Regions from separate parts of the Homo sapiens genome. Here region 1 is linked to region 2. A link means that fine-mapping ties the variant in region 2 to the expression of a gene that starts in the linked region. Tissue or cell type: thyroid. Region 2 holds a variant in brackets; the other region holds the start of a gene. All regions are shown on one strand. Distances are from middle to middle.

Region 1 (2,688 bases), 360 kb after region 2:
TCGACCTGGGTTTTGGGAACACTGCAAAACCTGCCGTGGGAGGGAACTCCTGAGAAAACTCCTCTGCAGTGGGAAGAGATGGTATGGAAGGCAGCTTCCTCAAATGCTGGATAACCGCCTCCTAGGAGTGGGTGCTCCGTCAGGAATCGGTGCGAGGTCGCAGGACCAGGATGGAATTTCTGCAGGTGGTCCTAGGTCTGAGCAGCACAGTAGAATCACCTGAGGCTTTGAAAACTATTGAGCTCCACGCATTGTGGGAAACTGAGTTAACTGGTGTCTGGGGCTGGCAATGTCTTTAACTCTTACTATTCTAATAAGTCCCCAAGGTTGGGAATCATGGTAACCCGCAGGGTGGGCATCAGCCATCCTCCATAGCTCCAGCCATTTCTGTCTGTGCGGGCCCCCTCGCTGCTGCTTTTCATGGTCTCCCTGAGGGCCGAGCGAGGCTGAAGAGGTGGGGTCAGCCCGGAACAAGGATGAGAAGGCAAGGCGCACCATTCTTTCATTGGTGTTTCTCCAAACACCCTGGGCTCCCCTGGCCTCACAGCCTGGAGAGTCTCATTCTGAAAGCGTAGGAGGGCGCCCGGGAATCTTTTTAACAAGCCAACCCAGGTGCTTCTTACAATCAGGAAAGTTTGGGGAACGTCACTGTACACCCTTTTCTGGGTCCAGGTCATGGAATGGAAACGTGAGCCAATCTATCAACGTAAAACCTAACACTGTTGATCAAAAGTAACGCCCAGGTGTCTTGTGCCTGCGAGTCCAAGCTTGTTTCTCGGGCGAGAGATGCCCCTTTGGGCGCTTAGGGCCGGGCGGGGTCGCGCGCCGGGCTGTGGGCCGCGGTGGAGACCTGACCCGCACTCCGAGGGTTCCCAGAGAGCCGGGGAGCGAGTAGCAGAGTCATCGTTTCCAGCTTCAGCCTGAAAAGCTGGACCGTGCCGCCGCATGTGCGCTTGGCAGCCGGGCGCCCCGGGCCCTGCGGCCACATCATCCTGGGGCGGGGACGTGTGCGCTCCGGGCGCCCGGACGCCACTGAGCCACGTCTGAGCCGCCCACCCTCGGGGGTGAGCGAGCCGCGGCTCGGGGCGGGACCCTGGCGGGGGGACCCGAGCGGTCTCTAGGACCCGCGGGACGCCGCCAACTGGCGGGGGTGCGGGGGAGACAATAATTTGTTCCGCGGTAATAAGAACGGTGACTGCTGGCCGTGGATCCATTTCACAGGCCTGCCTTCTCTCACTAACGCTCTTCCTAGTCCCCGGGCCAACTCGGACAGTTTGCTCATTTATTGCAACGGTCAAGGCTGGCTTGTGCCAGAACGGCGCGCGCGCGCGCACGCACGCACACACACGGGGGGAAACTTTTTTAAAAATGAAAGGCTAGAAGAGCTCAGCGGCGGCGCGGGCGCTGCGCGAGGGCTCCGGAGCTGACTCGCCGAGGCAGGAAATCCCTCCGGTCGCGACGCCCGGCCCCGGCTCGGCGCCCGCGTGGGATGGTGCAGCGCTCGCCGCCGGGCCCGAGAGCTGCTGCACTGAAGGCCGGCGACGATGGCAGCGCGCCCGCTGCCCGTGTCCCCCGCCCGCGCCCTCCTGCTCGCCCTGGCCGGTGCTCTGCTCGCGCCCTGCGAGGCCCGAGGTAAGTCGCCGAACTAGGGCGGCTCGCTGCCCGCCCCGCCGAGGGCACCGCACGCTGCGCCTGGGCGCGCCGAGGTCCAGGGCTGCCCCGAGGGGCGACGCGCCCCGGCGCATCTCCGGAGCCCCGGGGCTTGCGCTTCCAGCGCGGCGAGACCGACCCCCCCCCCCCAGGTGCCAATTCCTTGGGGAAGGGCGACACTTGGCCCGCAGCCCCACAGGAGCCAGTACCTGCCCCGGAGGGCACAGCCTCGGGACCGCTCCCCCGTCCTCACCCTCTTGGGTGACATTTGCAGATGTCTCTGTATCTTGACATTTACACGTGTCACTCGGGACGATGCGTGTCGGGTCCTCTTGCTGGCCCTATCCCGCAGTGAATATCCCCACCCCAGGCTCCGGGCCAGCCCTTCACCAGGTTTCCTTTCCAGCCCCGCCTCCCCCGCTAACACACTTAGGGGGGCGCGCAGCGGCCCCGCAGGTGAGGCAGCCCCCTCCTCCGCAGGTGTGCCTGCTGCTCTCCACAGCAGGCTCTATTTTCATAAACTGACTCTCTTACCTACTTCTTTAGTTTCCTCTCTGCCCCTCTTCCTGGCTTCCAGGTCACTCCCTAGCTGTCAGTCGCAGGCAAACTTTAGCGGAATTCTCCCTCCTTCCTCCACTCAGTTTCTCCGCCGTAAATAATCGCCCCCATCAACTTGGTGCACAGCGAGAACTTACTTAGTTTAACGTACTTAGTTTTACAGACTTAGGTTTTCCCGAGTTGTAGCCCCTTAAAATCGGGCACCTGTGGCTCCCGTTTGCACAGTGAGGACTCACCCAGCAGGTGCCTTTTTAAAAATCCGGCAACTTCCCCGGGTCTCCGCCGCCGCCGCCTTCTTTCTGCCGCCCGGGGCGCTGTCGGTCCACCGATGAACGACTTCCCTTGGCCGCAAGCTCTCAAGTTCTGTGATTCTATATAACAGGCATTTATTTTTCAACAACTGGCCTAAATCACGAACCGTTACCACTTTATGATACGTTTTATTTTGCGATTGCCACTGCTGCCCTCCGCCCCCACCGC
Region 2 (2,688 bases):
GGAAGAGTTGAAAGCATTTTCTTTGAAAACTGGAACAAGACAAGGATGACCACTCTCACCACTCCTCTTTAACACAGTACTGGAAGTCATAGCCAGAGCAGTCAGACAAGAGAAATAAATAAAGGGCATCCAAATAGGTAAAGAGGAAGTCAAACTGTCACTCTCTGCTGATGATATGATCATTTACCTTGAAAACCCTAAAGACTCCTCCAGAAAGCTCCTAGAACTGATAAAAGAATTCAGCAAAGTTTCTGGATATAAGATTAACATACACAAATTAATAGCTCTTCTGTACACCAACAGTGACCAAGTGGAGAATCTAATCAAGAACACAACCCCTTTTACAATAGCTGCAAAAATAAATAAATAAATAAATAAATAAATACTTAGTAATATACCTAACGAAGTAGTCAAAAGACCTCTACAAAGAAAACTGCAAAACACTGATGAAAAAAATCATAGATGACACAAACAAATGGAAACACATCCCACGCTCATGGATGGGTAGAATCAATATTGTGAAAATACCATACTGCCAAAAGCAATCTACAAATTCAGTACAATCCCCATCAAAATATCACCATCATCTTCACAGAATTAGAAAAAACAATTCTAAATTCATGTGGAACCAAAAAAGAGCCTGCATAGCCAAAGCAAGACTAAGCAAAAAGAACAAATCTGGAGGCATCACACTACCTGATTTCAAACTGTACTATAAGGTCATAGTCACCAAAACAGCATGGTACTTGTATAAAAATAGGCACATAGACCAATGGAACAGAATAGGGAACCCCAAAATCAGCTCAAATACTTATAGCCAACTGATCTTTGACAAAGCAAACAAAAACATAAAGTGGGGAAAGGACACCATTTTCAACAAATGGTGCTGGGATAATTGGCTAGCCACATGTAGGAGAATGAAACTGGATCCTCATACAAAAATCAACTCAAGATGGATTAAGGACTTAAACCTATGACCTGAAACTGTAAAAATTCTAAAGATAACATTGGAAAAACCCTTCTAGACATTGGCTTAAGCAAGGATTTCATGATCAGGAACCCAAAAGCAAAAGCAATAAAAACAAAGATAAATAGCTGGGACCTAATTAAACTAAAGAACTTTTGCACAGCAAAAGGAACAGTCAGCAGAGTAAACAGACAACCCACAGAGTGGGGGAAAATCTTCTCAGTAAGAAAAAAAAAATCCCATCCAAAAGTGGACTAAGGACATGAAGAGACAATTCTCAAAAGAAGATGTAGAAATGGCCAACAAACATGAAAAAATGCCCAACATCACTAATGATCAGGGAAATGCAAATCAAAACCATCAGGCGACACTGCCTTACTCCTGCAAGAATGGCCATAATCAAAAAATAAAAAAAACAGCGG[ATGTTGGCATAGATGCGGT/T]GATCAGGGAACACTTCTACACTGCCGGTGGGAATGTAAACTAGTACAGCTACTATGGAAAACAGTGTGGAGATTCCTTAAAGAGCTACCCTTTAATCCAGGAATGCCACTACTGGGTATCTACCCAGAAGAAAAGAAGTCATTATACGAAAAAGATACTTGCACACACATGTTTATAGCAGCCCAATTCACAATTGTAAAATCGTGGAACCAACCGAAATGCCCATCAATCAACAAATGGATAAAGAAACTGTATGTATGTATGTGTGTGTGTATATATATATATATATATGATGGAATACTACTCAGCCATAAAAAGGGACAAATTAACAGCATTTGCAGTGACCTGGATGAGATTGGAGACTATTATTCTAAGTGAAGTAATTCAGGAATGGAGAACCAAACATTGTATGTTCTCACTGATATGTGGGAGCTGAGCTATGAGGACGCAAAGGTATAGGAATGATACAATGGACTTTGGGGACCTGGGGGGAAGAGTGAGGGGGGGTGAGGGATAAAATAATACAAATGTGGTGCAGTGTGTACTACTTGGGTGATAGGTGGACCAAAATCTCACAAATCACCACTAAAGAACTTACTCATGTAACCAAGTATACCACCTGTGCCCCAATAACTTATGGAAAAATAAAACAATAATAATAATGATAAATTCTACAAAAAAGGAATAGAACACAGGGCACTGAATTGCAGCCCACTCTCAGCCACACTTGCCACTTGACAACCACCTGTTCTCTGCTAGACCCTGCCATGAGCCATTACGCAGATTGTCTTGTTTGTTTGGATAATGACCTCTTGAGGTAGGATTTCTTCCCTCCCATTTCACAGATGAAGAAACGGATTTGCAGACTGTAGAATGTAAATTACTTGTCCTCTGTCACTCAACCAGCAAGTGGCTGAGCTGGGCCCCACATCCAGCTTCTTTGACTTCCAAGCCCATGTTCTTCCACCAGGCAGTGCTGTCTTTCTTCTTGGCTGGGCATTTCTCCATATTGTTTCAGCAGGTCTGGAGAGGAGGTTATCAGAACTCTGTAGAGCCTCTTGCCTGGATGGTTGGTTGCCATTTTTCAGCACAACCCACAGGAGCTAGACCTGCACCTACTGGCCTGTTCTGCCATACTTTTTAAGGTTGATTGCTTCACTGTCAATTTCAGACTCTCTTCCTCAGGCCCTGTGAGGTTCACCCAGCACATACAGTCTTGTGGGCCTCCCCACTCCCCAAGCCACCCAGCCATGGGATGCTCTGAACAGAGCCGCCTTGTT

Which allele goes with the higher level. Alleles are on the strand shown, and positions count from the first base shown. SD is a standard deviation of normalised expression in the study named.
In carriers of allele ATGTTGGCATAGATGCGGT in region 2, the expression in thyroid of the gene that starts at base 1,213 in region 1 tends to be higher than with T alone (small effect, 0.34 SD a copy in GTEx).

The links. PIP is the estimated chance that this variant, and not a neighbour inherited with it, causes the effect.
Region 1: it holds the start of ADAM12, and the variant in region 2 is fine-mapped to the expression of ADAM12 in thyroid (GTEx, PIP above 0.99).

Annotation. Positions count from the first base shown.
Region 1 is chr10:126,387,002-126,389,689 of GRCh38, reverse strand. It overlaps ADAM12 (ADAM metallopeptidase domain 12), which reads left to right and starts at 1,213. Exons shown (of 23, transcript NM_001288973.2): 1 at 1,213-1,632. The coding sequence starts at 1,545.
Region 2 is chr10:126,749,297-126,751,984 of GRCh38, reverse strand. No RefSeq gene overlaps it. Among named protein-coding and RNA genes, the nearest start is that of C10orf90, 80 kb to the right of the region's middle. The variant ATGTTGGCATAGATGCGGT/T (reference allele first, on the strand shown) is at 1,390.